Regions from separate parts of the Homo sapiens genome. Here regions 2 and 3 are each linked to region 1. Evidence: fine-mapped expression QTL. A gene starts in region 1. Each other region holds a variant in brackets. All regions are shown on one strand. Distances are from middle to middle.

Evidence for each region. PIP is the estimated chance that this variant, and not a neighbour inherited with it, causes the effect. A credible set is the group of variants that fine-mapping cannot tell apart.
Region 2: its variant is the best candidate, but not a certain one, in a credible set for the expression of LRP6 in spleen (GTEx, PIP 0.64).
Region 3: its variant is the best candidate, but not a certain one, in a credible set for the expression of LRP6 in whole blood (INTERVAL, PIP 0.68).

The regions. Positions count from the first base shown.
Region 1 is chr12:12,262,942-12,271,382 of GRCh38, forward strand. LRP6 (LDL receptor related protein 6) reads right to left here and starts at 4,103. Exons shown (of 23, transcript NM_002336.3): 1 at 3,740-4,103. The coding sequence starts at 3,794. RefSeq lists enhancers at 433-933, 4,110-4,746, 4,284-4,333 and a silencer at 3,794-4,103.
Region 2 is chr12:12,121,433-12,129,873 of GRCh38, forward strand. It overlaps LRP6 (LDL receptor related protein 6), which reads right to left. Exons shown (of 23, transcript NM_002336.3): 20 at 5,259-5,489; 21 at 3,864-4,000; 22 at 3,133-3,230. Among named protein-coding and RNA genes, the nearest start is that of MIR1244-4, 14 kb to the left of the region's middle. The variant G/A (reference allele first, on the strand shown) is at 2,012.
Region 3 is chr12:12,316,698-12,325,138 of GRCh38, forward strand. No RefSeq gene overlaps it. Among named protein-coding and RNA genes, the nearest start is that of MANSC1, 29 kb to the right of the region's middle. The variant A/G (reference allele first, on the strand shown) is at 3,895.

The DNA.
Region 1 (8,441 bases):
CCCTTTCACTTTTAAGAATGTGTGAATCTGGGCCAGGCGTGGTGGCTCACACCTGTAATCCCAGCACTTTGGGAGGCCGAGATGGGCAGATCACCTGAGGTCGGGAGTTCGAGACCAGCCTGACCAACAAGGAGAAACCCCATCTCTACTAAAAATACAAAAAAAAAAAAAAAATTAGCTGGGCATGGTGGTGCATGCCTGTAATTCCAGCTACTCAGGAGGTTGAGGTAGGAGTATCGCTTGAACCCGGGAGGCGGAGGTTGCAGTGAGCCGAGATCATGCCATTGCACTCTAGCCTGAGCAACAAGAGCGAAACTCTGTCTTTAAAAAAAAAAAAAGAATGTGTGAATCTGGCCGGGCGTGGTGGCTCACGCCTGTAATTCCAGGACTTTGGGAGGCCGAGGTGGGCGGATCACGAGGTCAGGAGATGGAGACCATCCTGGCTAACACAGTGAAACCCCGTCTCTACTAAAAAATACAAAAAAATGAGTCCCAGCTACTCAGGAGGCTGAGGCAGGAGAAAGGCGTGAACCCGGCAGGCAGAGCTTGCAGTGAGCGGAGATCACACCAATGCACTCCAGCCTGGGCAACAGAGCAAGAATCCGTCTCAAAAAAAAAAAAAAGAATGTGTGAATCTGCACCTGTAATCCCAGAACTCCGAGAGGCGGAGGTGGGAGGATCACTTGAGCCCAGGAGTTTAAGACCATCCTGGGCAACATAGCAAAACTCTGGCTCTATAAAAATTAGCCAAGTGTTATGGCACACAACTGTGGTCCCAGCTACTTGGGAGGCTGAGGTGGGAAGATCACATGAACACAGGAGGTCCAGGCTGCAGTGAGCAGCGATCATGCCACTGCACTCCAGCCTAGGCAACAGAGCAAGACCCTACCTCCAAAAAAAAAATAGGAATTCGTGAACCTGGCCAAGCATGGTGGCTCACACCTGTAACCTGTAATCCCAGCACTTTGAGAGGATCACTTGAGGCCAGGAGTTGGAGACCAGCCTGGGCAACATATCAAGACACCCCCACACCAACCCCATATCTACAAAAAATTGGGGGCATAGTGGCACGTGCCTATAGTTCAGAGCTTTGGGAGGATGAAGCAGGAGGATCACTTAAGCCCAAGACTTTGAGACTGCAATGAGCTGTGATTACACCACTGCACCCCAGACTGAGTGATGAAGCAAGACTTTGTCTCTTTAAAAAAAAAAAAATTGTGAACGTTATACAAATTAAATCTCAAATCATGAAAGCATTTGAGGATATGTCCCTGAACAAGCAAAAATTATAGCAAAAAGTAACATTAACAAGGTACTCCATATTATTTCATTTAAAACACCCAATAACCCTGCAAACTAGTCAGGTATCATTATCCACACTACCAGTAAAGAAACTGAGACCTAGAGAAGCGGACTAGACCAGAACCACAAAGTTATGAAGTTGTGACACTTGGGCTTTAAATCCAAGATTTTAGTATTGAAATTCCCAAATCTTTCCTTTATACCTTGTCATGTGATGATAGAGATAGGGACACAGCACTAACAGTATTCCCTGGCTTTCTGCTACTAATTCAACAGGGCTACAGGACAGAAGGTCTCCCAGACTCTCACATACCCCATCACACCCAGCCAATGTTAAAGCCCCAATTCTTTGTGGGGGAAAAAAATGACCTAAATGCAACAAATCAATCAGATTTTTCTCCTTGGAGTCCAAGGTTGACTAAATATCTTTACTATAACAGAGGATGACATTCTCAAAGAATGAATTAATTCTAAATTATGAACAAAAATATTTTACATCAAAAGACAGTTTTACTTCAAATAATATGTACTCACAGCTAAGTACAGTACTGTTACATATTAGAAGACCACCTTACACCATATTTCGCCACATTTAAAACGAGAGCTCCACTTCTGAAAACTTTGCTAGTGGAAACGAGACAATTTAAACTATTACCTCTTCCAGGTCTTGTTACATAAATAAGTGCAACCTATCTAAATTCCAATAATGAACAAACCCAGCTCTGGTCTCAAAGCTGGTGTTAAACAAACGGCATTTACATCACACGCTTCTCCTCCAAGAAATACAACTAGACAACCAGAAACATCCCAAGTTATAAGTTTTCCCACGACTCTAACCAATCAGCTGGTTCTCATATTTGTCAGCCCTATTAACCTTATGTCTTAAAATACATACATATTCTTATGTCAAATATAGTTGTTTCTAACAGCTACAGCAAAACCCCTTTCAATAGAGTATGCCAATAATAAAATAAGTATATACTTATGAAACCTCTCCAGTACGTAACACTTCATTAAAATTTCTGCCACAAAAATCTAATGAACACTACCTTTCCGGGGTTTACATGTGGGAAAACTTTGTAATATGCTTAGAGTATCAAGTAATATAACATGCAAACACAATGCTGCATTACTACAGAGTAACTGAAGAAAGTATTTCTCCTCCTCCAAAAAAAAACTCAATCATTCTCATCCGAAATACATATACACAGTACACGCAAAAATATACACCTGTCACAGACTATTAGTTACTATTAGTGTTCTGTAAACTTAAATTAGTTTGGAGAACTTAACAAAAGTTTAGCTTGTTAACACCTAAAAATCTCCAGCGACCAGCGGTCACATGCCTGAAAAGAACTTACTATGAACGCCAGTAAGAACTTTACCAAACCAAAACTACAAGCCACCGTATCGAGCAGTACTTAAATTCCTCTGCTGGTAAATGCTCCACAGCCATCACAGCCATCTCAAGTTCAACACTAAATAGTTTGAGAAGAGCTGCCGACGGGCCAGTCAAAAATCTTTGTGAACTGTCACAAAAGTCACAGAGCATGTGTCAGCTTTGCAGTCCAATTCAAAACATCATAGTGCCATCGAATTCAAGCGATTCCCAGAGCAAATTATCTCGAACAGCCTATGCAATTTACCAAAGTGCCAAGCAGTCCCCAGGGGTGCAGAGCAAATTATCATTTTGGTCCCAGGACCGGCTCCTCTTCACACGAGGATGAATTTCCCTACTTAGTGCCAACTGTACACTTGCATACTCCGAAAATAGGGGCAAGCCGTGAATACCAGAGGTTACAAGGGCAATGTTTTATTTTATTATGGGCTGAAGCTCAGAAGGCTCCCAATGCTGAAACGCTCGACCTATAACCCCGGAGTCACTTTCCAACTGCGCTCTCACCCAGGGTCATTATATCCCAAACGGAAGCCAATCATTACCTGTAACAAGGCCTGGAAAAAATAGCAAGAGGGCTTTAAAAGTTCACCTAAGAAACACCGAAACGGGGTGGGGAGTGGGTGGCGGGGCTTCGATGGATAAGGCCAACCTTAAAGCATCTCGGACTCAAACATTTTAAAAGCCAAAATACGTACAAAGACCCTTTTCCCTGGAAGACCCCAGGCAGAGAGAGGCACACAGACACTCAGTCATCCCGACAGCATGGGGTGCCAAGGGTTCCCTAAGACCAGCAGCCGGGATCGAAGCTCCGATGTGTCCGGGGAAGGTCTGGGAAGCCAGGCCAGGTCCGCATTGTGGCCGGGCGGTGCACGCAGCCCCTGCTCCCGGGCCCCTTTCTCTCCCCCTCCCCACGACCAGGCCTCTCCCCGCTCCTCTCCCCTTCTCCCTTCCTCCGTCCCTCCCCTCCCCCTAGACACATACAACAAGGCCACCTCCCCCCGAACCCCACCAACTTTCCAGTGCCCCCACTCTTCCCACCTCTCAGGAGCACACAGAAGCTGCAGGCCAGGAGGCTCCTCAGGACGGCCCCCATCTTCCCTTCTCGCGTTCTCTTCTCTCACCGGCGAGGGGTGGCCAGAAGTGGGGGAGGCGAGGAGCCGGGGCGGCCGCCGCAGCGGCAGGGCTGCACGCTCATACTTCCCAGCTTCCCAGCGAGAGAAGAAAGAAAGGGGCACGTCAAGGTTCCGCGCGCGCCGCCGCCGCCCTCTCTACCGCGCCGCTCGGCCCCGGGCTCGCGCGACGCCAGCGTCTGCTTCCATCCCGCCGCCTCCTCCCCCGGCGCCCCGCTTCCCCCGCGCAGCTCCTCATTCAGCCTCTGCCTCGCGCAGCGGCGCAGGGATACGGTCGGCACCGCCTCCTAGGGTCGCCGCGACCGTGTCCCTGCGCGCAACGAGCCCCTTCTCCCGGTACTGCCTCCTGTACGGCCAGGGAAGGGAGTCGGCAACCGCACGCACAGCCTCTGCCTGAGACCCTGGGAGAGGTTCTGGGCTAGCAGAGGCGAACTGGGAGGGAAAGCCTCCTCCCGGTGGCGCATTCCAGCGGGATTCTTTCCCGGACCGGCCGCTTCGGCCCTCCCCGCGGAGGGCGTGAGGCGGCGTTGAACAACATTGGAGCCGGCGTGGTCGGGACTACTTTCTGCGGCTCGGCCGGGCAGCCGTCTGCCCCGCTCTTTGTGCGGCCGCCGCCGGCAGGGCCAGGTGGGGCTCCGGTCTCGCGCCCCCAGCCACCTGAGACTGCCCAGCCGCGGTGCACGCGCGGGGAGCCACGGCGGATCCCGTTGCGGGGTGATGAGCTCCGTCTTCGGGGTTGGAAATCGGTTTCAGCATCCTTTTTTTGGGAGGGCGGAATTTTTGAACGCTGTTTACACCGGCTTTCAGCGTGGATCTGGTGAACGATATTAAAACGCCAATTCAAAACTGAGATTGTCATTTTTCTCCCGCCTTCCCAGAAATACAAACTGCCCCCAGAATTAAGCCCGACCAGCTAAAGATTTCTAAACTGGCAGATAAAATTCCAAGATAAATGCCTCAAAACCTAAGAGCAAAGGGACAATTGGACAAGACTATTTAGGATTTTACAAGTTGCATATAATAACGAATGTTTGGCATGCTTCGATTATCAATTCTCAGCTTGAGAAGGAAAAGATTCCCTAGAATCTCAGACTGTGCACAGCCTCTGCTACTCCCAGTGCATTGGGCATTCAGGAGTAATGGCCCAGACGCCCCCTGAAATCACCTGCCAGGCTTTCGTCTGGGCAGAGGCGCTCCAACAGTTAACCCTAATGGAGCCATCAGATGCATCCTGCCCAGCTGTCACACGCCCTTACCTGGAGGCAGATGGGCAAGAAAGTGGAGCTGCTACCACAATGTTAACAAGTACCTCAGTGACATTGGAGTTCACTAGTGCTTGAACACAAGTTATCATATTTGACACTCAAAACTACCCTGGGGAAAGGCAGGTTTTGTTACTTATTCTTTATTGCACAGAGGAGCAAAATGAGAACCTGAGAGGTTAATGACTTACCCAGGGCCACTCAAGTAATGAATAGCAGTACCTCAGCCCAATCCAGGTCTCTGACTTAAGCCACTCCGCTCCTTCCAAGAAATGCGCGCTGAACCAAAGGTGCTGCAGGTTTGTAAGTAGATGGACAGCAGAAACAGCCAAATCACTTTCTCCCAAATTCACCTGAGGTCTAGTCACCGTTTATTTAAATGACCTGCTTCTAAGAACCAAGTGAGTTTTGTATTCTGGCTTCCTCAAAGCAGGAAACTGGGCCGGGGGCGGGTGGCTCAGGCCTGTAATCCCAGCACTTTGGGAGGCCGAGGCGGACAGATCACGAGGTCAGGAGTTCGAGACCAGCCTGGTCCAACATGGTGAAACCCCCGTCTCTACTAAAAATACAAAAAAAATTAGCCGGGCATGGTGGCACACGCCTGTCATCCCAGCTGCTCAGGAGGCAGAGGCAGGAGAATGGCTTGAATCCAGGAGGCGCAGGTTGCAGTGAGCCGATATCGCGTCATTACACTCCAGCCTGGGCAACAGAGCAAGATTGCGTCTCAGAAAAAAAAAAAAAAAGAAAAGAAAGTTAACCTTCACTTTCACAGGCCCCTTCCAATGTCTGGGGAGGGGCCTTTATGGTATGTTCACATGGTCCTATTTGCAAAACAAAGATAATTTTGAATTCCTCTTCTGTATAATTGTATTATACAAAATTGTATAAGCTTCAAGTCCCACAAAGCCTGGATCTGTCCCTATTTATAATAGAAAATGCGGTACAACTGGCCGGGCACGGTGGCTCACGGCTGTAATCCCAGCACTTTGGGAGGCCGAGGCAGGCGGATCACGAGGTCAGGAGATCGAGACCATCTTGGCTAACACGGTGAAACCCCGTCTCTACTAAAAATACAAAAAATTAGCCGGGCGCGGTGGCGGGCGCCTGTAATCCCAGCTACTCAGGAGGCTGAAGCAGGAGAATGGCGTGAACCCGGGAGGCGGAGCTTGCAGTGAGCCTAGATAGCGCCACTGCAGTCCAGCCTGGGCGAAAGAGCGAGACTCCGTCTCGAAAAAAATAAAATAAAATAAAAAAGAAAATGCGGTACAACCTAAATCTCCTCAGACTATCAACCTAAGTAGGGGAATGAGATATTACACACTGCTGAAAAATAATAATTTAGAGGATTATGCAACAGTGTTGAATGTTTATAGTGAGTTAAGCTTTTTTTTTTTTTTTTTTTTTTTTTGAGACGGAGTTGTGCTCTTGCTGCCTGGACTGGAGTAAAATGGCACAATCCCGGCTCACCACAACTTCCTCCTCCCAGGTTCAAGTGATTGTCCTGCCTCATCCTCCTGAGTAGCTGGGATTACAGGCATGCGCCACCACACCCAGCTAATTTTGTATCTTTAGTAGAGACGGGCTTTCTCCATGTTGGTCAGGCTGGTCTCGAACTACCGACCTCAAGTGATCCGCTCTCCTTGGCCTCCCAAAGGGCTGGGATTACAGGCGTAAGCCACCGCGCCCGGCCGAGTTAAGCTTTTAAAAAGTGAAAGTGCATGTACATTTGATTATAGCTATGTAAAATAAAAATATATATAATATACAAACATAAATGCACACACATATATATAGCACATATTTGAGCAAAGACCAAAAGTAAGTGCACTAAAATAGGCATTAGGATGGTGAAATAATATGAGATGTAGTTTGCTTTTCTGTTCTTCAATTTTGTTTAATGTACTATATATTTACTACAAATTTTTAAAAGATGCTTAAGTGAAAATCTATAGGTTAAGCTTAAGCCCTAGAGAGAATGCCATTATTACTGCATAACTAATTTTGTTTCTCATTCTTTTAAGTGCCAATCAGATACCAATCACTCTGTTAAGTGTTGGGGATATAAAGATGAGAGTAATCATAGTCCCTACCCTCAAGAAGCTTACAGCCTAGTTTGGAAACACTGATTAATAAAGTGAGTAATTAAAATATTAAAATCTGCAGGGCACAGTGGCATACAACTGTAATCCCAGCACTTTGGGAAGTCAAAGTGGGCAGATCACTTGAGCCCAGGAGCTCGAGACCAGCCTGGGCAACATGGCGAAACCCCATCTCTACAAAAAATACAAAAATTAGCTAGACATGGTGGCGTGTACCTGGAGTCCTAGCTATTCGGGAGGCTAAGGTTGGAGGATCACTTGAGCCTAGGAGGCCAATGCTGCAGTGAGCTGTGATCTTGCCACTGCACTCCAGCCTGGGCAATACAGTGAGACCCTGTCTCCAACTAAAAAAAAAAAAAAGACAAAATTGCTAAGTGTAGAGATGCTTTTCTGCCTAGACAATTCAAAGAAGGGAAAAAAGGGCCAGGCGCAGTGGCTCACAACTTTAATCCCAGCTACTCACGAGGCTGAGGCACAGGAATCACTTGAACCCAGGAGGCGAAGGTTGCAGTGAGCCGAGATTGCGCCCCTGAACTCCAGACTGGGCAACAGAGTGAAACTCTGTCTCAAAAAAACAAAACAAAACAAAACAAAAGAAGGGAAAATAACCCTAGCGCTGAGGTTGGAAATACAAATCAGACTTTGCCAGGCCAACAAGACTGAAAAAAAATTTCAATCACAATAGTAGGTTTAAAGACACTGAATCATTAGAGAACTTAGTATGTTGGGGATTTGAAAGTAGATTCATATAGCTGATGCATGGAATGCTTTTAGAGAATGTCAGGAATTGAGGCAGGACCATTAAATAGCTATTGATTAATAAAAACCTTTTCAAGCCATGCTAAGAAGTTTAGATTTTAGCATATTAACAATGCGGACATTGAAGAATTTTGCACATTGTACAGAAGTCTATGAAAGGGGCAATCAGGACAGCAGCGCTGAGGACTGAAAAGACATCATGGATTTAAAGAATACGAGATTAAAACAGGACTTTTAGTTGTGAATTGAGAGAGAAACAGAGAGTAATGGGAGTCTCCTTTACAAAGAAAAGAAAACCTAAGAAGTATTTCAAGAAGGAGTGGGTAATAAGTTTAACAATGGCTCTTTTGTATTGGAGGTGTCTATGAAACATCCAGGTGGAGGCCGGGCGCGGTGGCTCACGCCTGTAATCCCAGCACTCTAGGAGGCCGAGGTGGATGGATCATCTGAGGCCGGGAGTCCGAAACCGGCACGGCTAACATGGTGAAAC
Region 2 (8,441 bases), 140 kb before region 1:
GAAAATAAAGAGAAGCAGTTAGTTTTACAAAAAAAAATGATTTCCCCTCTCAGAATAGAGGTATTAGATGTCAACTACCCTATGAAAACAATAAGCTACTGCAATTTAAATTTACACAGACCAAGAGGCAATTTTCAATGGCAGATTCGCTGAGGAAAATAGCAGGTACTTTCTTATTTGCAAATAAGAAAGTGGCAAGTGAAAATGAACAGGATGGGAATGCAGAGGTGAATTCAATCTAGCCTCTGGTTGTGCTCTTACATCTTCAAGTTAAACTGTATCACAGAATAAAAAATGACTATTCAAATTTGTTCTGCAGTTTCATAGCCCATGGGAAGAATGGGTTTTTACATATTTTACACTACTCAAACATGTCAGCATTCCCTCAACATTCTTTACTCCAAAATTAACCTGATGAATAATTAATTTAATGACATCTGAAGTCTTCATTTCTTTCTTCTGTACAATTCTGTACAATTTCTGTACAGTCCAGGCTGGATTTTGGTAGACAGCCTCAGGGGCATAACTATTCCATTGTTGTTATCTTAGCAAAGGGAAATTGCTGTGATTGGGGGAAACGGTTTTCATTCCCTGTGTATAGGTAAGTACCTCTCATAAGAGCAGCTTTAAACATCAAAATGATAAAATTTAAATGCCCATAAAGGGTCAGTGAATTTTCTAATGTATATTTCAGAGGCCTAGTTTATTTCTTACACTTGTTTATCTTTACAAGTGACATACAGTTGTTAGGTTTGTAGCACTGCTAACTAAAGAAAAAGGCATTGGAAAGAGAGAAACATACTAGTGAAAATAAGATCTGACCTAAGTTCTGGCTTTTCTGTCATTCCTACTTCTATTTTTAACTTCTTATACCTGTTTATTCTAAATATGGTAAAGCTGATCTTAAATTTATCCCAAAGATTTTTTCATAAGCTTTCTCATCAAAGTGACTACAAGAGAAGGGGAAAACCAAGTTAAAAACTGATACAACGATTCATAAAACACCTAGTGATACAGAGCACCACCAGGTAATATATCCCAGGAACCCAGGATACAAACCATTTGATATCACTTGGCTTGCTTCAAAAGAAATGGCTGCCAGATTGTTCACAGTCACAGATCAAATTCCTTGTTCTACTCTGTCTCCCCTTCTTACTACTGCATTTGATTAGTCTTTAAAAAAGAAAGAAAGAAAGAAACCAGCCTGGGCACCATAGCAAGACCCCGTCTCTACAAAAAATAAAAAAAAGCTAGCCAGGCGTGGTGACACACACCTGTAGTCCCAGCTACTTGGGTGGCTGAAGCAGGAGGACTGCTTGAGCCCGGGAGGTGGAGACTGCAGTAAGCTGTGATTGTGCCCCTGCACTCCAGCCTGGGTGACAGAGCAAGACCCTGTCTCAAAAAAAATAAAAATAAAAATAAAAAGGGTGCAAGGCTGCCAGAGACCAAAAGTTATATGACCCACTGAGTGAGTTCTCAAAGGCTTTTACTATCAATACTGACATGATGTCACAGTTTGTTTTGTTTAACTCTTTGTCCAATCAGGTGTCAATCCTTGGTGAAATTTCTAAGGTCAACATTTAAAAGTCCAAATACTTCTATTTTCATGAAAAAAAAAAAAGAAAACAAACTGAATTAATAAAATTTTTTCATGTCCCAGTTTAAACCAAAATCTCAACAAATGATGTAAGTTTTGACTCAGAGGAAACAGAAATTGGGCTTATACGGAAAATAGTTAAGCAAGAATAGTTTTTTATGCAATCGTGTTTATTCTGATGAGTGCCTTAGTCAATTTGAATTAAGGACATTACTTTTAAAAAATAAAATTTTGTATCTTTCTCCTTTCTCAATTTTCAGGCTTCTGCTTTTTCTGTTTTGGCTTCCTAGAAGAAGAAACTTGTGGCAGGGAAAGCAACATTACAACATATCATTAAAACAATCAGTTCACAGCCAAGGCTATTTCAGTCTTATCTAAGCTGAAATGAGAATTCTGAGTGAGATACTTTAAGTG[G/A]TTTCCACTTCATTTCTACACATGGGTGAGGTCGTATCAGGCCAATTTGACTGAAATGCTAGGAAAGATAATAGAAGATTATCTAGAGAGGATAGAAGATAGAAAAGATTATCTAGAAGATAACAGGCACTTGAGGGATGCCCATGAACCCTGGGCACTTCAGTGTGTAGATAGAAACTCTCAAGCTACTGATGGTCTGTTGGCCTTTCAAGGAACATAGAAGTGGAAGCTGACACAACAGTACTTGACCTGCTCAACACACTTTATAGACTCATAAATTAGCAAAAAGGAATAATTTTCTCTTTTTTGGCTTACAAATACACTTTATTTATTTCAATCTTTCTTTATTCCATGCAACTACATGAGAAATCTTTCACTCCAAATTGTAATAGCATATGCAAGCAATGGCTGAACTTACATTTCTCTCAACTTTTCTAAAATTCTGTGCTCTGAGTATGTTGCTGTTTTAAACTCTCAATTCTATGAACCAATCTTATCCCAATATTTCATTCTTAGAATATCAAACTATTTTGAAACCAGTCACTTTGGTGGGTAATTCCTCCTTAGAATACTGCCAAAGCCTGAGGCTGTATTTTATTATTATAAAAGCCAGCATTTGTGACTCTCTTAAAAAAAAAAAAAAGTATAGGCCAGGTGTGGTGGCTCACACCTGTAATCCCAGCACTTTGGGAGGCCAAGGCAGGCGGATCACCTGAGATCAGGAGTTCGAGACCAGCCTGGCCAACATGGTGAAACCACGTTTCTACTAAAAATACAAAATTAGCTGGGCGTGGTAGCGCAGGTCTGTAATCCCAGCTATTTGAGAGGCTGAGGCAGGAGAATCGCTTGAACCTGGGAGGCGGAGGTTGCAGTGAGCTGAGATCATGCCATTACACTCCAGCCTGGGCAACAAGAGCGAAATCCATCTCAAAAAATTAAAAAAAAAGTATAACGTCCTGAAAGGAAAGGATTTGTGGTAGAGGCAATGTCAGTACTATCAAGATAAGATGACTAGTCTCTCTCTGGTGACCATCGTCTACTCATTTGGGGCTATATCAGGTCCACAACTGAAACACTTTCAATAAATACTGCACCTTATTTTAGAGAAGGATGTGTATTACCTGTATGACCTATGAGTGGAAGGACTGTTTGAAGAATATCCAAATTCCATAGTGTAATGTGATCGCTCTGTGGCTGGGGATGGTGGAGGGTTCAAAATCTAAAAGAAAAAAATAATTAAAATATTAAAATAACAACATAGAAACTATCAGACTTTCTTTCAACTTTTCTTCCTTCATCTCTATTAGTGTTTCTTTACAATACACTATTAGCACAATTCTTCTTTTCCAAAGAATTGACCTCAAACAGTACTTTGGGACTATGGCTTCCTCATTCCCTAAGACCTCATCATGGCTAAAAAGTGCAAAGTGACAAAAACGAAAATCTGTAACCTAAAAATCATTGGTCAGTACATTTAGGTCCTGGTTATTTAAAATAGTAAGTATTTAGAGAAAAATTATTGATTTAGGAGAAATTCCAGGTGTGCTTCCTCTTTTGGGAAGTCATAAAATGAAGGCCCTAATCCCTCAATAGGTACCATTCAGTAGTTCTACTTTTACTTGAAATGTGAAATTAATGCCCAGTGCTTTCAAGTATTCTGGTTACTACACAGTAACTTAAAAGATTTATAAGCATGGATGGTGGTGTGTGGTAAGTCCTTTGAGCCTTTTATGCCTAAATTTTACATTCAAAAACTACTTTTACATTACTATCACTGATCACCCACATTTAAATGAGTTAAAAAATCTAAGATCTTATGTATGTCGCATTCAAAGGAAAACAGACTACTTACTGCAGGGAAGTAAGTGCCTTTGGTGCTTGAAGAACTACTTGATGATGCTCCTGTAACATGGGCTCGGTCATAGGGGGGTCCACTGCTTCCCCCCATGATACTGAGGGAGCTGATCATTGATTTACCTCGAGACATTCCTAAAATAAAAGGAGGTTAAAAACTGAAGATGAGTATGATATATAAAAATGTATCAAGCAATTTCATTCAACAGTAGGATTACAAATATCAACAGTGAAGTAGTCTGATTTTAAAATAACTTACACTCTTTTCCTATAATTGAAAACATTTAATGGAGAAAGGAAATGAACGTTTTCTAGAAGTCAATGCTTCCATTGAAAGAGCTGGCCTAGAACAAGGCCAAGAATAGCTCCCACCTTCTCCCTCCCCTGGTAGAAGCAGAGCTATTTAAAATAAGGGCTTTTCAACCTCTTGGAGGATTTGAAAGGATTGTAAAGGGTAGAGGTTGTGAGGCAGGGCATATTAAATACCAGACTTGCTCAAAAGAAAACAAAAAAACATTTTTAGGGCACAAACAACATATGAAAGAATATTTTTTCATCTAATGAATATAAATGTTGCTAGAATCAAAACTACCAGTGCTAAAGAAAAAATTCTATTTTTTCCAAGAAGCTTCCCAAATTCCACTAACTGAAAATAGGTATGGCAACAAAGCAACACTACCATTAACAGTTTAAAAACCATGTTTGTCTACTTAAGAGTTACACCCATAGTAAGTTCCTATTTTCAGAGGGTTTTTGCAAGGCACCGCCTTCTCCATATTCATTAAAAGGAAGGCGTCTTTTAACTAAGGGCACCAGAAAACATTAAAAAGAAGGCCAGTTCCCTAGAGCAACACGGCCTACCCAAGCTTAAAACTTCTGGCTACTCAGCTATGCCTAAACTAGCCCTTTGTCCCTTATTAGCACATGAAGTCAGGAGAAAACTTAAGACATATTCTCCCTTCTATCATCCAGCTATTTACAAATCTTTGTTGGCTGAAGGGAATCTTATATAATTTTTGGCCTCCTTTTATTCATGGGCTCCATAGTACTAGAGTTCCCTGGTGGTGAACTTAACCTGTGGTTTACAACTCTTTCACTAAATGACTGGCTGATTCACCTTCCGTAGCATGCATCCAGAATTGCAGTCAGAGAGGCTTAGAGCTTGCATATGTATTTGCTTTATATGCTTTGACAATTTCTACCAAACCATATCTAAGGCCTTCTGTGTAAAGAGAAGGTGCTAATAGTAAAAAAGAACGTTTGTCCTTATAATTGTTTAAACTCAGAGTAATATGGTTTCAGACAGACTCTAGGTAGTATTCTTTTCCACAATGGAAACTGGCAGTCTTGCAGGACCAAAGACTTGATTCTCAATGGATCCATCCTGACTCACCTGGAAGAGATCCTGACAAAGAACTTGGGTGTGGCACATAACCAAGAGGCACAGAAGCTGGTCCATGAACTACATAGTCATTAGTCATAGTTTCCCCATCTCCCTTCATACGTGGACACAACATCCTCTGGCAGATAAAGTATACAGTTCCAGACACAAAAATGGTGACAATTACGCCAATAACAGAACCAACTGTATTGGTGGCCTGTGGTGCTGGTTCTTCAGTCGGATCTACAATGAAGAATGCAGTATGGTTATTTAATAGAAAAACAACTGTATATTCAAAATAGTAATCAAAAGAGGGCTTGCTAATAGGATGTGAAGCTATAAGCCTAATGAAGATAATTCATAAACACTTTTCTTTTTTATGAGTACATACATACCACGCCCTGAAGACATATGAAATAAATGTCATCATTAGGAATCAAAATGAACTACCCTTAAATGAAGACAGAAATAAAACAATAGGTTGGAAAGTGTAATTGTAAACAGATAGAAACAAAGATGGTAAATGAAGTACAGATTTAAACACCATTAAGAAGCTTTAAATAAATAAACAGATAAAATCCATTCTACTTCATTCTATATACCATACAAATGAACAACGGTATTCCAAGATTTCGGGAAAAAATTTATGACCAGAAGGGATAAACCTAGAAAAGTCATCAAATGTTTTACCTGGAATGGTGAAGAAGCCAAAATCAGCTCTGAGCACATGTTAGATTTTAGATTTGAATAGTGACATTTAGGCCTGATGAATGAAAACTGGAAGCTAAAGATAAGCCTCAGCTCTCAAATCCCCTATGCTGCTGGCCTTCAGGCTGTCTAGTTGCCTGAGACCAAGGAACATAAGGTCTTTAATACCTGATTACTGGAGGACTCACAAAGAAAGGCCACATTGCCAGAAGAGGACACCACCCCAGGGATTCACCTTCCCTGGATCCCTGAGCTACCCGTTTAAGAAGCAGAGGGCATCAATATCAGAGGTAGAGGGAAAGTGAGCTTATTGAAATTAGAGCATTACTGTCTCTATTCAGAGGGAAAATTCTTCCATTCTGAACAGTTAAATTTTATCTCACAGTTGCAGATCCTTTAAAAAACTTCCTCCTGCTTCATCTTACCTCAAATCTCCCATCCATATAGCTAAACTCATCCTCTGACAGATTATATGAAAGAAATGCGTGAAAATGACATCTCTAAGTTACATAATATGTAGGGATTATCATTTACAAATTTAGTCTGTGGAATCTGAAGCATAGACTCTTCTTAGTCCTTGAGAACAACCGTCTCATCTTTTCATTCCTTTTTAGTCCCCTAACATTCCTTTGCAATGCCAAGCTTCAGGAAAGAAAAGTTTACATTCACTACCCTCAATCCCTAGCCTCTGGGTCACACCATAAACTCCCTGAAATCAGACTTCCACCCTCACCACTGCACTGAAACTTTTCTGTCAACAGTCAAAGTTCTACTATTTGCCATATTCAATATATTCATTTCACTAACCTCTTTACACAATACTGCTGGCTCCTGTCTTCTCTTTAAAAAAAAGTCTGATCAATATTCTTCCAAGATACCACTCTCTTAATTTTACTATTTCTGATTATTCTTTCTCTGCTTCCTTTGTTGGCTTCATTCTCTTCTGCCTGCATCTTAAGTGCAGGTGCTTCCCAGAGAGATTTCTATCTATCACCTACTATTTTCCTCCTCTTCTTACTGTCCTGGGAGATTCTATCTACTGTCACAGCTTTCATTATTATCAATAAACTAATGAGCACCAAATCTCTCTTCTGAGCCACAGTTCCTTATAATCAACTTCCTGAAGAGCTTCAGTGGGATATTCCATGAGTACCTCTCAGGCAACATATCACAAACTGAACTCACTGTCACCATGATCAGTCATTTCTCCTAGATTCCAGGGGTAAAGACACCATAAATAAAGTCATCTAGTATAAGATAATAAAAAGTGATGGGGCTTGTGGCAAAGTACACGCCTGCCTAAAGGCATTTAATGTAAATTAAACATCACATCAATCAAACATTACATCTGCAGCCAAGATGTGGTATGGTACTTTGGTTTTCAGTTCCTGCTATATATCCCATTTAATGACTCCAGTCACTCAGTGAGGTACCTGTGGGTCAACTTAAACTTATCAACTATAGCTAAGTGGTTACCAATTCCTCTTTATTCTACTTCTGAAACAACTCCGAAATCTGTTCTCTCCCTGCCACCCCCACTCCTCCTCCTCATGATTTAGATCTTTATCATCTTCTGCCTAAACTCTAATCGCTTCCTTTTTAAATTACAGGCTGCAAGTCATTCGTAAATGGTGAGAATGATTTAGTGGGTTACAACCAGCTTTGAAAAAATAAAACAGAAAATGTCAGAAAGTGTTCTATATAACATGGGTAAATATTTAAGTGTTGTGTGACACCTTTTTAAATGCATGAGCTCACATCTCTGTATTCCTCTTGATGCGATCAGAAGTTTGAAAGCAATCAATCTAACAGATTTCCCTGCCTATAAGCTTATCACCTCCAACCCACTGGCTTTACAACTTCTGTATTGCTTGACCATGCTAGTCTTTTTCTTGAAATTTTCAGTGACTCTCCACTCCCCATTGTTAATATTGTCTAGGCTCTTTAGAAGAAAAGCATAGTCCTCCATGATTGTACCTTTACCTATGTTATCTCTTGCTGACACCCCTCAACAGAGCCTGTATTTTGGCAGTCCCATTACATGGAGTTTCCCAGAGGTGCCTGTTTCACTCTTTTCTGCTTTTGAACAGTATATTCCCTCTGCCCAAAATGAAATTTCTCCAATTATCTACATGATGAACACTATTCATTGATCAACACCCAGTCTTTTTTTTCTTTTTTTTTGAGATGGAGTCTCGCCCTGTCGCCCAGGTTGGAGTACAATGGCACGATCTCGGCTCACTGCAACCTCCACCTCCCGGGTTCAAACGATTCTCTTGCCTCAGCCTCCTGAGTAGCTGGGATTACAGGTGCCCGCCACCACGCCCAGCTAATTTTTGTATTTTTAGTAGAGACGGGGTTTCACATGTTGGCCAGGCTGGTCTCGAACTCCTGACCTCGTGATCTGCCCACATTGGCCTCCCAAAGTGCTGGGATTACAGGTGTGAGCCAGCGCACTGGCACAACACCCAATCTTAAATACCATTT
Region 3 (8,441 bases), 54 kb after region 1:
ACTTTTATGTTTTTTCGTTTTGTTTTTTTGAGACAGAGTCTTGCTCAGTCGCCCAGGCTGGAGTGCAGTGGCGCGATCTTGGCTCACTGCAAGCTCCGCCTCCTGGGTTCACACCATTCTCCTACCTCAGCCTCCCAAGTAGCTGGGACTACAGGCGTCCGCCACCACGCCCAGCTAATTTTTTGTGTATTTTTAGTAAAGATGGGGTTTCACCGTGTTAGCCAGGATGATCTCGGTCTCCTGACCTCGTGATCCACCCACCTCGGCCTCCCAAAGTGCTGGGATTACAGGCGTGAGCCACCGCGCCCGGCCTATGTTTTTCTAATTATAAAAATATGTGAGTTTTCTGTAGACAGCATGTAAATACAGAAAAATATCACCCAGAGTCCAATAATCCCTAAATGGAGAATCACTGGGAACAGTTTAGTGTATATAGTATGTTTAAGCTGTACATACACATAAACACAAAATTGTGAGCATTCTCAGTATGGTTTCATGTACTGCTATTTCATTTACTATTACCCTGCTAGCATTTCCCCTATCATCAAAATTCTTTGAAAATATGTTTATTAACTGTATAATATTTTATTTTATGAATGTACTGTGAATTATTTAATCCTCTTCAGAGACTCAGGTTGATTCTACTGATAATTGTGCTGCAACGAGCATACTGTGCGTTCATTTCTATGTGGAATTCTATGGCCTTAAAATAGAATCCTAGCAGTAGAATCACTGAGATAAAGGGTAAGAGTATCTAAAGCAGTGGCTAATGAAGTTTTAGTTTTAGGACCCTTTACATTCTTATGTGTTTTTTCTTTTTTTTCTTTTTTTTTGAGACTGAGTCTTGTTTTTTTTTCTTTTCTTTTTTTTGAGACTGAATCTTGCTCTATTGCCCAGGCTGGAGTGCAATGACACGATCTCAGCTCACTGCAATCTCCACCTTCCGGGTTCACGCCATTCTTGCGCCTCAGCCTCCCAAGTAGCTGAGATTACAGGTGCCCGCCACCATGGCGGGCTAATTTTCATATTTTTAGTAGAGACAGGGTTTTGCCATTCTTGGCCAGGCTGGTCTCAGGTGATCTGACCACCTCGGCCTCTCAAAGTGCTGCCCGGCCCTTTTTCATTCTCAACTATTGTTGAAGACCTAAAGAGATTTTGTTTATGTTGGTTACAGCTATCAGTATTCACTATATTAGAAATTTAAAATAAGAAATTAAAAAAATATTTATTACTTCATGTTAAAATAGCAATAAGGAACCCATTATTTTTGAATAAACAGAGGAATTAACGAGAGGTTGAAGTCAAGTATGCTAGTTTCCTGCAGAGGCCCAAAGAAATTCCCGTTTCTGGTGATTCCATTCACAGAGACTGAAAACAGAGGAGCAGGGGAGTGGGCAGGGGTGGGCCTTGGTGGAGACAGAGATGGGAAAGAGGGTGAGTCTGTAAGAGTCTGGCATTCCTCCTACAGGACACGTGGGCATTTTCAAGACTCCAGTCCACTAGGTGGATCTTCAAAGGCTTATGCCACATTCTTCCATAGCACACTTCTAAAATACCTGTTTTATAGGGTTTAAACTATCTGCTTTATAGGGACCAAGTGTGGTGGCTCACGCCCGTAATCCCAGCACTTTGGGAGGCCGAGGCAGATGGATCACAAGGTCAGGTGTTCGAGACCAGCCTGGCCAAGATGGCAAAACCCCGTCTCTACTAAAAATACAAAAATTAGCCGGGGCCAGATGCAGTGGCTAACGCCTGTAATCTCAGCACTTTGGGAGGCCAAGGCAGGCGGATCGCTTGAGGCCAGTAGTTCAAGACCAGCCTGGCCAACACAGTGAAACCCAGTCTCTACTAAAAATACAAAAATAAGCCAGGCGTGGTGGCGTGAACCTGTAATTCTAGCTACTCGGGATCCTGAAGCACGAGAATCGCTAGAATCCAGGAGGCAGAGGTTGCAGTGAGCCAAGATTGCACCACTGCACTCCAGCCTGGGCGACAGAGCAAGACTCTATTTCAAAAAAAAAAAAAATCTGCTTTATAGGGTCCTTTTACAAACTATTAGGCCACTTATCCTCAAAACCAAACAATGCAATAGGGTAGACAGATAGGAACTCGCAGGCTGTTCACAAGGAAACTGAGGCCCTGAGAGGTTATGTGACTTGTCAGTCTTCCCACCTCCCTTTTGCCCATCTTATAATAGACTCATGTCTGGAACTCAATTGTCCTGATTGCTAGCTCGTTGTGCCCAGTGACTCAAGAGAGTGAAAATTGTTGGTTCAGCAGTCTATCTTCTAAATTTGCTTCTTCTAAAAGTATTTAAAAGGTATAAGAAATATAAATTACTCCCTAGGCTGCTAGGCAGGCACCTGGTTTTCTCCTGGGGTAGTCAGAACCCTCCTATCTTTAATTTTTCACGGATGAATATACCAACAGTGAACAATGGCCAGACCATGGGGAATAGAACTGAGTCTCACAAACTTTGTAGCAACCAGCTGGGGAAGCCAAACCACTTGGCTTCCAACTCAGCACCGACCAGAGAAAGCCAAAGATGCTCCCCAGACTAATCACCGAAGATGCCCTGCTTCATTTTTTTTTTTTTTTTTTTTTTGAGACAGAGTTTCGCTTTGTCACCCAGGCTGGAGTGCAGTGGTGCGATCTTGGCTCACTGCAACCTCTGCCTCCCAGATTAAAGCAATTCTCCTGCCTCAGCCTCCCTAGCAGCTGGGACTACAGGCACGCACCACCATGCCCGGCTTATTTATTTATTTATTTATATTTTTAGCAGAGACGAGGTTTCCCTATGTTGGCCAGGCTGGCCTTGAACTCCTGACCTTGTGAGCTTCCCACCTCAGCCTCCCAAATTGCTGGGATTACAGGCGTGAGCCACCGCACCCAGCCTGCCCTGCTTCTAAGCAGTCCATCTCCCACTTCCTCGTGCCAATAAGCTCCAATCCAGATAAACCTGAAGCCTTCCCTTTTTGTCACTGTAAATTCTCTCACTCCTCTGCCTGCTTTGACCTTCTGCCAAAGTGATGGAAGCTGACTCCCATAGCATAGCAAGCTCTGAGTAAATAGCCCCTGTACTCATTTATTTCCACACCACTGAATGAATAATGAAAGATGTTATAAAGCCAAATTATGAAAAGGGCATCAGTTATTAAACATTTGTAAAATGTTTTACAACCATCTTAGTATGCCTCATAAACACCTCGTGAAGTGCTGCCATCCCCGTTTCAGAGCTGAGAAAATTGAGAAGGAACCATGAGATTAAGTGACTTGCCCAGAGCTATGATGAGAACATGAGCCCCCCAGGGTTTGAGGTCTGTTGTTTATCCACTGAGCTTGAGCTGCGCTTTGGAATCATTACCATCTTAAAGCATTTTACCCTGTGTTGGGTGAATATTAAGAAGTAGATCACATTTCAGCCTGGCAGGCGCGAAAGTATTGTTTTTAGTTTGTTTTTCTAAATTTTAGTAGAGGACATATGGGCTCTATTAACTTTACTATGTAGCACAATTTGAAAGATAGTTTCTTTTCCAGCAAATTTTTCACCGTAATTTAACATTTTAAAATTCAGCACACACCGTCCTCCCTGGATACTTGTTTTTCTCAGAGTTGGGCCTTTTTCCTCTCCACTGCAGCTTGGAAGGTCGTAAATCCAGCCAGGGGGATTTTATTATGCCTGGGGACAGTTTTCAAAGTTAGGTATGAGTGGAAGGAAGGGAGGGCGGGTGCAACAGCGCTGGACAAAGTCCGTCTAATGCAAGACTTTCCTTTCTTTTTTTTTTGTTTTTAAAGATAAGAACTTTTTTGGCTTTCTCCCCGCAAAGCTTGCTGATGATGTTGACTGATGAGGACATGAAAAAAGCTGAGATTTGCAGAACATAACTGGAGCAT[A/G]AGAACGCCTGTCTGGAAGGCAGGGGCTGCTGGGAAAGGATCTCTCTGGAGCTCCTTGCTGGCTGCAAAAATGCAGCTGTCCCTATTCCTCTCTACTCTGGGACATTTAAAAAGGAGGCTGTGTGGCAGTAGCATTTGGCTTGTGTGCCACTGTACCTGGTCAGCCTGGCATGGAATGCCTTAGTGGTTTGTTAGGGGTCACTGACTGAGGCTAAATAAATTTAGCACCATGTATACTTTCATTAAATATTAAACAATGAGGCCAAGCACGGTGGCTCATGCCTGTAATCCCAGCACTTTGGGAGGCTGAGGTGGGAGGATCGCTTGTGGCCAGGAGTTTGAGACCAGCCTGGGCGACATAGCGAAACCCTGTCTCTACAAAAAATTTAAAAAATTAACTAGGCATGGTGATGCATACCTGTAGTCCCAGCTACTTGGGAGGCTGAGGCAGGAGGATCACTTGAACCCAGGAGGTCACGGCAGCATTGAGCTCTGATCATAGCACTGCCTCTGGCCTGGGCAACAGAGCAATACTCTGTCTCTAAAAGAGAAAAACAAACAAACAACAACAAAAAAAAACACAAAAAGACAATAACATTCAATTGTTTGCTAATGGTTCATCTGCCCAATCTCTGGAATCCTGTCTTTCACCTACTCACCTTCACTCACTTAGAAACTTATGCATTGGCTTCAAATACTATTTCTTCTATATTATCCTTTCACCTTTCTTCTTTAAAAAAAAATTTATTTAGAGACAGGGTCTTGCTAGGTTGCTCGGGCTGGCCTTGAACTCCTGGCCTTAAGTGATCCTCCCACCTCTGCCTTCCATCTTTTTATCTTCTTCAGCTTATGAAAATGGATCCATCTGCATTAAAGGCCTAAAAATGTATGTAGTCAGGTGAGTGTTGTGATAGTTGGTGTGATGGTTAATACTGAGTGTCAACTTGATTGGATTGAGGGATACAAAGTATGAATCCTGGGTGTGTCTGCGTGGCTATTGCCAAAAGAGATTAATATTGGAGTCAGTGGGCTGGGGAAGGCAGATCCACCCTTCATCTGGTGGGCACAATGTAATCAGCTGCCAGTGAATATAAGGCAGGCAGAAAAACACGAAAAGGAGAGAGACTGGCCTAGCCTCCCAGCCTACATCTTTCTCCCATGCTGGATGCTTCCTGCCCTCAAACGTCGGACTCCAGGTTCTTCAGTTTTGGGACTTGGACTGGATCTCCTTGCTCCTCAGCTTGCAGACAGCCTATTGTGGGACCTTGTGATTGTGGAGGTTAATACTTAATAAACTCCCCTTATGTCTGTCTGTCTATCTGTCTGTCTGTCTATCTATCTATCTATCTATCTATCTATCATAGGATATATATATATATCTATTTATATTAGTTCTGTCCCTCTAAGAGAACCCTGACTAACACAGTTGGTGAAGGTTTCCTTTTCTCCTCTGATGATGTGAGTGAAGCAGGCTTTCAGGGATTATGAGAACAGGCGAAGTCTTCAAGGAGATGGGCCCCTCAAACACAGCCTGCACATCCCATCCATCTCCCCATTCTCCTGGAAGCCATGCCTTGGAAGGCAGAGGGGATGCTGGAGGGATGCAGGTCTCAGGGCCTGAGAAGTTGAGGGTGGTTCTAGATAGAGTAGAGAATGAATGGGATAAGGGGCAGTAGAGGCCTGACCTCCGAGAGATCTCACCACTCCTAACTTTGACTATTCCTGTCTGGCTGCATTTGGGTTTCCTTTTGTCCCAAGAAAAGAAAGACGAAAAACCTTAGAGTGTTGGGAGTCTAGATATGTTAAAACTAACAGATGTTAGTTCATTGATCACCAAGACAATGCACGGGCCAGTAGGACTTCTCACAGCAAAAAAGCCAGGATGGAGAGGCGGAAGACCAGGTTGGGCAGATCCTTCAGCTTTCAGCTGTTTTTCTCATCCTTTATAGCACTGTAATTAGGACTAGATGAGGAAAAAAAGATGGGCATGAGCTGTAGCTACAGGGGGAAAACAATAAATGACTAACAGATAAAAAAAATGTAAGTGAAGTGCTAATATTCCAGTCATTTAAAATATTGCTGGGAAGACCAATTATCCGTGTAAAAAAGGTGAAAACAAATATAACATTGCTTAGGTAATTCTGTGGACCCTTGATACACAGTATTTGCATAAAATCAGAATTACAGAATTTAGTGTTTTGTGGTTTTTGTTTGTTTGTTTTTTGAGACACCTGGGTCCGGGGAGGTGGAGGCTGCAGTGAGCTGTCATGCCACTGCACTCCAGCCTGCACAACAGAGTGATGAAAGAAAGGAAGGGAGGGAGGGAGGGAGGGAGGGGGAGGGGAGGGGAGGGGAAGGGGAAGGGAGAAGGGAGGGGGAGGGGAGGAGAGGGGGAGGGGAGGGGAGGGGGAGGGGAGGAGGGGGGGGAGGGGGGAGGGGAGGAGAGGGGGAGGGGAGGGGGGAGGGAGGGGAGGGAGAAAGAAAGGAAGGGAGGGAGGAGGAGGGGAGGGGGAGGGGAGGGGGAGGGGAGGGGAGGGGGAGGGGAGGGGGAGGGGAAGGGAGGGGGATGGGAGGGGAGAGGAGGGGGAGGGGAGCGGGATGGGAGGGGAGGGGGGAGGGAGGGGAGGGAAGGGAGAAAGGAAGGAAGGAAGGAAGGGAGAGAAAGCAAGGGAAAGAAGGAAAGAAAGAAAGGGAAAATAATCAAAAATATAAGAACACAAACAAAAGCACATTCTGTCAGCTCATCCTCTCTATAGGCTAAGGAAACTATACTATCTGAACCCAAAGGAGAGAAATAAACAAAATCAAATACTTATCTACCCATCCCTCTGCACACGGTCTTAGTTGAAGTGAGAGTATACACTTCATTACTGTGTACCTGGATTTTATCCCATTCTGCTACAAAATGCACGTCAGTGCGTTCACTTTCACTGCATGATATAGAAGCTGTTCTGTATGCAGCCAAATCACATTACTGCCCATTGCTGAAAGAAATGACCTTCAATGAACGGGTTATAAAATTCACTCATGATCACTTATTGAATGCCTATGTGCCAGACACACTGTTAAGCATGATGGAATCAGAGAAATGTTGCTGTCTAACGTATCCCAGTCTAGTGGGGTAATATATAACCTGATACATTATGATTCCATGGAAGTGTTTCACTAATGGTATAAATCACGAGCTGTGTCAGAAACCCAGGAGGAATTGATACGTCTCCCGGGAGAGTGTGGGGAGACTCTGGTGGAGGTGACGTGTGATCGTGGTCTTGAAGGATGAGCGGAAATTTGCCAAGTGAACAAGGGGGAAAGGAATTTACAAGTAGAGGGAAGAGGATGGCTCGTCAAAGTGTCTGGCAATACTGAGAAATGTTGAAAAGGGTGGTGTAGCTACAGCCCAGGTTTCACGGGACAGAGGTAGCTGCAGTGTGGTTAGGTTGGGGCTAGTGCATGGGGAGCCTTGGTACACCTGCCACGTGCAACTGGTAATCATCCCTAGAGGTACTGGGAGCACAGAGTGTCATGCGTGGAGTTACATGTACTGTGTGCTGTGCTTTTAATGTAACTTGAAGTCGTAAGGAGGGAATATATGATGTGGGAGCAGAGCAAGGAGAAGCAAGTTAGGGAGACCAAACAGGAGGCAGCAGTGGGGACGGCTGACTTTGAGAGGCGTCTTTGAAAGACAATAGGTAATATTTGGTAGACATTGGATGTGGAGGCTGAGGCAGCAGGAGAAACAGAGTATGACTTTGAAGTTGCTCAATACAGGAGATACTGGGTGGCTGGCGGTACTATTAACCCAGATGACAGGACACGGAAACAGGATGGGTTCTCTGCTCCGGCGTGTCCCTGAGGAGTCACTCTTAACTTTGGTACAGGTGATCAGCAACTGGGAAAGTGTATGAAGCCCACTCCAGAATGAGACCACTGACCTCTTCATTTCCATGCTTTCGGCTCAAGGTATCATTCGGCTCAACACCATTTAAAAGCTATCTAGGCTGGGTGTAGTGGCTCACACCTGTAATCCCAGCACTTTGGGAGGCCGAGGCGGGTGGATCACTTGAGGTCAGGAGTTCAAGACCAGCCTGGCCAACATGGTGAAACCCCATCTCTACAAAAAAATTAAAAAATTAGCTGGGTGTGGTGGTGGGTGCCTGTAATCCCAGCTACTTGGGAGTCTGAGGCAGGAGAATTGCTTGAACCCGGGAGGCAGAGGTTGCAGTGAGCTGAGATCGTGCCACTGCACTCCAGCCTGGGTGACAGAGCAAGATGCCGTCTAAAAACCAAAATAAAAAGCTATCTAGGGGCAGGCTTATGCCTGTAATCTCGACACTTTGGGAGGCTGAGGCGGGCAGATCACCTGAGGTCTGGAGTTCAAGACCAGCCTGGCCAACATGGTGAAACCCCATCTCCTTTACTAAAAATACAAAATTAGCTGGCCATGGTAGTGCACACCCATAATCCCAGCTACTCAGGAGGCTGAGGCAGGAGAATCGCTTGAACCCAGGAGCAGAGGTTGCAATGAGCCAAGATCATGCCATTGCACT